Homo sapiens: one gene and its partner. The protein of the gene in region 1 interacts with the protein of each later gene in a pairwise test. Each region holds a gene or a part of one and is shown on either strand. Other genes may lie near its edges.

Evidence for each region.
Region 2: the proteins of HOXD9 (region 1) and ETV5 interact in a two-hybrid assay, tested with the Homo sapiens proteins (one large-scale study listed by BioGRID and IntAct).

The regions. Positions count from the first base shown.
Region 1 is NC_000002.12:176,121,508-176,125,745, forward strand, and holds HOXD9 (homeobox protein Hox-D9), read left to right. Parts: upstream 1-1,211; 5' UTR 1,212-1,261; coding exon 1,262-2,078; intron 2,079-2,426; coding exon 2,427-2,668; 3' UTR 2,669-3,430; downstream 3,431-4,238. UniProt on the Homo sapiens protein: Sequence-specific transcription factor which is part of a developmental regulatory system that provides cells with specific positional identities on the anterior-posterior axis.
Region 2 is NC_000003.12:186,078,050-186,081,857, reverse strand, and holds part of ETV5 (ETS translocation variant 5), read left to right. Parts: intron 1-682; coding exon 683-812; intron 813-910; exon of another isoform or gene 911-1,298; intron 1,299-1,753; coding exon 1,754-2,041; intron 2,042-2,048; exon of another isoform or gene 2,049-2,826; intron 2,827-3,643; exon of another isoform or gene 3,644-3,808. UniProt on the Homo sapiens protein: Binds to DNA sequences containing the consensus nucleotide core sequence 5'-GGAA.-3'.

The DNA of each region.
Region 1 (4,238 bases):
GAGCAAGGAATATGCCCTCCGCTGCCGGCGCCCCGGCCGCTTTTGTCTGGGCTCCCAGCCGGGCTTCCGAGGCTTTGTACCATGGATTTGGGAGTGACAATGGGCATTTCCCTCAGATTCAAGGCTGCTCAACCTCACCTCTGTAGGGGGAAAAAAATCAGAAGGGAGTGTCCCAAGGACCTAGCCATTCGGCCGAATTTTTTAGACATTTTGGGAGTCTCCTCCGAGGCCTTTAAGTGCGAACCGCGCGAAGCGGCCCTGCCCGGGGAGACTCGCTGAGGCAGGGCTGAGGCGGCGGGCGGGAGCAAGCTGCTCTAGCATTTGGGTTCTGCCCTGTGGCGTGTTCTCTTCCAGGGCCTTTCCAGCATCATCGGAGAAGACGAAGCACCCTGGCCGCCACTGTCCGTGCTGCGCCAACTCGCCCGGCCGCCCGCCCTTCCGAGGGCAGGCAGAAGCCCCTCTGTGTCCTCCACCGCCGCGCCCCGGCTCGCCCCTCGGGCCGCGGCGTGTGCCCAGCCTCACGTCGGGGTGTGTGTGGCCGCGCGGGCGTGTGTGAGTGTGGCAGGGGGAGGGGGCCCTCCGATCTGCTCCATCCGTCCGTTTTATTAGGGACACATTAATCTATAATCAAATACACCTCATAAAATTTTTATTGAAAGGCATAATATCATTACAGAGGTCTTCCACCTGTTTTAAACAACACGACAAGCTGTGAGCAAGCGTGTGTGTGGGGATGTGTGGGGAGGGGTGGGTGTGAGTAGGGAGAGAGGCGAGGGGAGAACAGCTCCCCTCGGGCGCTAGGGGCCGCCCCGAGGGCCCGCCTGCCTCGGGCGACACCGGCCTGGCGCCCCCGCGGCCGCTCCGTGTGCCCTGGACTCGCCGCCCGCGGCTCGGAAGCTGGAGAGTCAGCGACGGGGCCCGACTGCGGGACCGAGGGCTGCAAGAAGAAGCGAACAAATAGTCCCCAGCGCCTCCTCTGGATGCGGTCGCGTCTGTGGTCCTGGCAGCCGCTGGGCGGGCCAGGCCAGGTCGGGCCGGGCCGAGCCGGGCACATGGACCTGGGCCTGCGGGCTCTAATTGCGGCGCTTATGTTGATGATTTTTTTTTTAATCACAGCAGCCCCCAGTTTAGCGGACTGATTTACTCCCGGTATTGGTAAATATGATCACGTGGGCCGCGCGACCAATGGTGGAGGCTGCAGCCTGCGAACTAGTCGGTGGCTCGGGCGCCGGCGGGGAGCTGCTCGGCGGCGGACAGTGTAATGTTGGGTGGGAGTGCGGGACGCCTCAAAATGTCTTCCAGTGGCACCCTCAGCAACTACTACGTGGACTCGCTTATAGGCCATGAGGGCGACGAGGTGTTCGCGGCGCGCTTCGGGCCGCCGGGGCCAGGCGCGCAGGGCCGGCCTGCAGGTGTGGCTGATGGCCCGGCCGCCACCGCCGCCGAGTTCGCCTCGTGTAGTTTTGCCCCCAGATCGGCCGTGTTCTCTGCCTCGTGGTCCGCGGTGCCCTCCCAGCCCCCGGCAGCGGCGGCGATGAGCGGCCTCTACCACCCGTACGTTCCCCCGCCGCCCCTGGCCGCCTCTGCCTCCGAGCCCGGCCGCTACGTGCGCTCCTGGATGGAGCCGCTGCCCGGCTTCCCGGGCGGTGCGGGCGGTGGCGGTGGTGGTGGAGGCGGCGGTCCGGGCCGCGGTCCCAGCCCTGGCCCCAGCGGCCCAGCCAACGGGCGCCACTACGGGATTAAGCCTGAAACCCGAGCGGCCCCGGCCCCCGCCACGGCCGCCTCCACCACCTCCTCCTCCTCCACTTCCTTATCCTCCTCCTCCAAACGGACTGAGTGCTCCGTGGCCCGGGAGTCCCAGGGGAGCAGCGGCCCCGAGTTCTCGTGCAACTCGTTCCTGCAGGAGAAGGCGGCAGCGGCGACGGGGGGAACCGGGCCTGGGGCAGGGATCGGGGCCGCGACTGGGACGGGCGGCTCGTCGGAGCCCTCAGCTTGCAGCGACCACCCGATCCCAGGCTGTTCGCTGAAGGAGGAGGAGAAGCAGCATTCGCAGCCGCAGCAGCAGCAACTTGACCCAAGTAAGTGCAAAAGAAATTGCCCCCTGATTTATTGCTGAAACCTGTAAGGCTCGAATGTGCAAAACTGATAGTTTTACTAACCTATAAAAACGTCTAGACGCCTACCCAAGCCTAGGCGAACAACATGCATCCATAAAAAGAGCTTCCCATAACCACCTACCCTGGGCGCTCAGTTAGTACGGTAAACAGAGCGCGAGCATTAAGGCTTTTTATGATAATTCCCCACAAGTTGTGAAAAGCGACCATCCTTGGTGAAATTAATTTAACGACCTCTCTTCCCCACCCTGTGGTCTCTCCCTGCCTCCCCTCCTCTCCTCTCTCCCCGTCTCCAAACCTCCCTCTTTGTAGACAACCCCGCCGCGAACTGGATCCACGCTCGCTCCACCCGGAAAAAGCGCTGTCCCTACACCAAATACCAGACGCTTGAGCTGGAGAAAGAATTCCTCTTCAACATGTACCTCACCCGGGACCGGCGCTACGAGGTGGCCAGGATTCTCAACCTAACAGAGAGACAGGTCAAAATCTGGTTTCAGAACCGTAGGATGAAAATGAAAAAGATGAGCAAGGAGAAATGCCCCAAAGGAGACTGACCCGGCGCGGTGCTGGCGGGAGCGCTCAAGGGCAGCGGATTTGTTGTTGTTGCTGTTTTCCTTTGTGGGTGTTTGGTGCTTGATTTCCAGAAACTCTCCAGCGACTTGGACTTCTTCTTCTTTTTTTTTTTCTTTTTAGATAGAAGTGACTGTGTGGTTGGTCTCTGAGGTATTTGGGGGACTCTGTATTTGCTCGTTTACGTGTTGGAAAAACCAAGTGGCTTTGGGGTTTCGCCCTATCCCACTCCCTCTCTTTCCTGCTCCATTGGTTCCTTAAGAAATGCTATATTTTGTGAGTGCAAGCTGGCTTGGGGAGCCCTCTCTTGTGTAAATGTCCCCCATGTTTCTGAAAAGTGCTGTAGTTTAGTCCCCTCACCCCCAGCACTGCCCAAACAGGGGCCAAGTGCGCCCCAATTCCAAGAATGAAGGCAGAGCGACAACAGTGCGGACACCCCGGCTGCTAGCCCACGGTGAAGCCCGGCGGGGTTGCCCACCAGTTGCGAAAGCCCCCTTTCCTCAGGGAGCACGCGGGACCTCGGTGGAGATCTCCAGTGAGGCTTAGAGGAGCCCAGGGCCTCGGGCGGGTTGGGGTTTGTCCTCAGTGCATTGGACGCGCTGCTCTCTCCCCTGAAGGCTGGGCTCGCGTGGGCGGCCGCGGGTGGTGGCCCTCCCGGTTCCTGCCCGAGGACCAGTTGTAAATGTTACTGCTTCCTACTAATAAATGCTGACCTGATCAAATGGAGCCCAGACGCTGGCCCTAAACATTGTGTGCCTGCTTTCTCTGCCTCTCTGCAAAATATCACACTCAGGATATTTCTCCTCTACCCCTGGGAGTGAGACATTGTTAAAAATTCAGGGCCCTTCCACCTGACAGATCTCTCTGATGTGTCTCTGCCTTCTCTGCCTCACATCCCTTTGTGTAGGCAGATGCAGCAGCACAGACCCTGTGGGGGGACATTGGTGCCTCCCCAAGCCTGGTTCAAGGTCCTCCACGAACTCTGTGCTTGGGCCCAGTGTTAGCCTTGCAGAAGCGCCCAGAAGAGCCAGCAGGCCCCAGAAGCCAGGCACTTTCAGGCTGGGGCTTGGGTACACAGCACCCTAACCTTCCCTGGGCTCCTGAAGCCCCAGATGCCAAACCCCTCTCCAAACAAGGGAAAGGCCAACTCTACACTCTGGAGCAACTGTCCCAGCTCGGTGGGGCTAGCTGGCTCCGGGAGGTCCCAGCTGGTCAGGCTGTGAGCTTCTGCTCCTCCCCACCAAAGCCCCAAAGTGACCTTAGCGATCAAAATGGTCAAGGCTCTCCTCCCCAGCCACCTCCATTTCACCGCCCCCTTCCCCCCACCCAGCTTCTGTGTATGTTTAGCCCCCAGCTTGGCCCTCTGAGGGCTGCATTCAGGGGCTAAAATGAAGGTCATTGTAAGTGAGGGTTTGGGTGAGCACAGCATTTGCAGGCCAAAGAGGCAGCACTGCCAAGTGGCCTGAGCTGGGTGGAAGGTGGGGGCGGTGGCAGAGATCTTGGGGGATCCCAATGAAAGAGGGGACGCGAAGAAAAAGCATAGGGGGGCTGGGA
Region 2 (3,808 bases), on another chromosome or scaffold:
GACAGGCCTGGAGCAGATGTTGTAAGCACAAAGGTAGCCAGGCTTTCTGCTTTCTGTATTCATTAGCCTTTCCTAGGTGGTGGATTGGTCTGTTGTTTTATTCCTTTGCTTTTAAAATTTTTGGAATGCCTCTAAAGTTGAGTATTTCTTGCTGAGAGCTGATATTTAAAGTTACTTGAGAAAGGACTTTTTAAAAATTCTATATTTAATTTGTAAATATGCATCTGAATAAGAAATATATTTGCCACAGCAATTTTAAGCCTTTGATAAGCTTAAATGTGTTGGTAATGTCTACCAACACATTTTTGGTCGTTTTGTCCTTTTTGGAAACAAAATTCTTCATGTCTGCAGCCACTTGCATTTTTGGTGGAGACCCATTACCTGCAAGGTTTTTAAGGATTTTGCAGCTTCTGGAAAGCAAGACCCATGACCAAAGAAATTTGGGAAAAAAGACTTGGCTAATTAAAAGTATCAGATGATGATACTTTTTCTGACTTTGAAGAATTTAATTGGCTTTGGATGGGAGGTTGTGTGTTTAAGCGTTTTGCTTTTTCTGACATGTGACTTGACATGAGTTCCAAGAACAATCAGCTAGTTAGAAGGTTTGCAGAAGGAAGCATTGTGCTCCCTGTTAATCAGCTGTTCTCTCTCTATTCCCCTCTCATCCCTCTTCTGATTTCAGTGGTGCTTCATGCCCCACCTCCAACCAAGATCAAACGGGAGCTGCACAGCCCCTCCTCTGAGCTGTCGTCTTGTAGCCATGAGCAGGCTCTTGGTGCTAACTATGGAGAAAAGTGCCTCTACAACTATTGGTGAGTGGGCAAGAGGAGTCGAAGAAAGGCTGCCCAGAAAGGCTCTGGAAGTAGCCATCAAGCTGAATGTTCCTTCCCAGTGTTACTTACCCAGCAGACCCTGTGGTAAAACATATCCTTCTTTCATGGCAGTGTCATCCTCCGGGTGTAGTCCAGTCCCCTTGGGATCATTGTACTGCACACAAAAGAAAACCATTAAAAACCTTGTGGCTCTACAGAGCACTAAGTTCATAGGGTACCCAGTCCTTCTAGGGAAAGAGTCTCAATCCTGGGATACTTGATCTGTGGCTTTGAGGCAGGTAATATATACTTCTTCATGTCTATCATATGTTAATGTGAACTTTAAGCACCAGAGAAGTAATCTCCAAATCAGAATATATGAAAAAGTCTTGAAGCTTGTGCCCTTTACTTAAGAATATCCAGGCCCCAGGAATGAAGCTTTAATTTTAAATCATTCTTTGCTCTAGAAGATAAACATAGATTTGCCTGAAAGGGGGAGGAGAAGAGTTGTTAATTCAAATGATGTCACAGCACAAACAGACCTTCAACACATATTCTGACTAATTCCTGGGAACCCTGGAAATAGTTGGGAGAGGGGACCAGAGAACACCTGGCAAACATACATTCTCCCCTCACCCACCCACCCTACACAGGCATACACGGAGAATTCTTTTAGAAGGAGGGAAAAAGGAAACCGGAAGCAGAGGCTAAAATTATCCTTGAGAAAAATCACTAGAAGTGTTAAACAAGTCCCTGTGACGCAGTGTGTTTGTCACTTTTCAGAGGTACAAATATCCCCTCGGGGCTACGAGCGATTTAACTATGTTAATGCTGTTATTTCCTGGCAACAATGGGCTGCAAACTAGCTTTCTGCTGGACCTGGTAACCATGCTAATGGCTTCATTTCAGCTTAATGGTTCCTTCTCTTTTTCTGTTTACAGTGCCTATGATAGGAAGCCTCCCTCTGGGTTCAAGCCATTAACCCCTCCTACAACCCCCCTCTCACCCACCCATCAGAATCCCCTATTTCCCCCACCTCAGGCAACTCTGCCCACCTCAGGGCATGCCCCTGCAGCTGGCCCAGTTCAAGGTGTGGGCCCCGCCCCCGCCCCCCATTCGCTTCCAGAGCCTGGACCACAGCAGCAAACATTTGCGGTCCCCCGACCACCACATCAGCCCCTGCAGATGCCAAAGATGATGCCTGAAAACCAGTATCCATCAGAACAGAGGTGGGTGTTGATCTGGGCTTCTTCCTTAATTGTCTCCCTCACTCCTATCCTTTCTCACTGGGAGAGGGGAAGCAGTTTGTCTTATTTACCAGGTTCCTAAAAAGTTATCATTACATTGAGGCAGCTTGTGAGGCAAGACTAATGATAATACGAATATGACTGTTTATATACCACCCTGTTCCCAAGGTACTCCAGATGGTTGATGGACTACGACATCCTTATAAAGTAGGTAAGGGAGAGGTAACTGGTATTCTCCCGTCTCACAGAACTAGAGGAAGAATGACTTGCCAGGATAGTCTTGTCCCTCACTGAGGGCAGGTTCCTGACTCCTCATTGGATGCTGCCTACTATTAATAGAATTGAACTTCAGTTATTACCATTTCACTTACATATAAGGGACAATTGCTGATTTATACAAGGTAATATTACTTATCTGATTTTAACATGTTTTAACAGTAGGAGATTAGCTAAGGACCTTATTTGTACATCTGCTTTTGAAATAGAAATCTCCTGGTTACACTGCAGGTGGTTTTTACATTTCTACAGGCATTGAGGCATCAGGAGTAACTTGTCCAGAGTCATTCATTTGTCAAAAAAGTGTGTGAAGGGAACCTTCTCTGCACACTCCAAACCTGACCTCTTTATCTGTGGTATTCTAGAATCTCGGATGCTTGTGGCCTTCTTTTATAGAAGATGTGCTGGGGGCCTGTCTTTATTTCAAGTTTCTCTGGGATAGGGGGGTAGTTGTCAACAATATTACCAAAGGATGCAAGATGGTGGCCATGGTATTTCATATCTATCTATCTTGTGTTAGGTGGATCGGTGTGGGGGCCACAATGGGGCGGGAGTGGGAAGAATATATGAGTATACCTTTCCCAGGCCTGGTCCATTCCAGATGCCTACCAGTATTTACTTGGAGGTCATTTTATTTCTAGATGAAATGCAGGGGAAAAAATAAGGTCCCTTTGTCTGGTTCTGATCCCCTTCCCGTTTTGCTCTGAAAGTCACCATTAAGAACGGCAAAATATGGCTGGTTGCTGTTTATTCCTTGGTTAGGCCAAGGAACACGAACGCCTGTGTTACACAGGGCTCAAGGGGTGAGCACTGACGGGGTTGTGGGGGGCTGGCTCTGGAGTGGGCCTCTATTGCCACCGGGGACTCATCTGGAGGACACAGCTGCCGCTGAGCTTTTGGCAATTGTTACCTTGTACTAACAACCTGTACTTGTGCAGAAGAATTTGGTTACTTGGTTTTTTATGTAAAAATTGTAGACTTTTTTTTTTAAGTTGGCAACTAATTCAAATTAAAAACAACACCTCTGCAGACTAAACAAAACTTCTCTGGGCAAAATCACCCTGCAGGCCTGCCAATTTGTGAACTCTGGCCTAGATATCATTTTTATTTCAATGGTTTTTTGGTGTTTTTAAACAGCATCTTGCTGATTTTCTGCAAGGGTTATGGGGAAATTGGGGAGGAAGTGTGGGGTCGAGTATATATTCAGTATTTGAAACTCTTAGCAAACTTCTATTTGTTATACCATGAACTGTAAAAGAAAATTCCTTTATCTAATATTTCCCCCTCAATCCTTGTTTTTTATCCAAGGGGCTTATGTAACATACTGTATTAACAGTTAACTGAGTTGGGAGACAAATATCCTAGTTCTCCTGGAGAATTGGGAGATGGGTAGCCCCAGTCTCAGCTGTGAAATAAGCCTGTCTCCAGTCCACCCAGCCCCCTGAGAAGGAAGGAGTTTTGGATTCCTGGGAT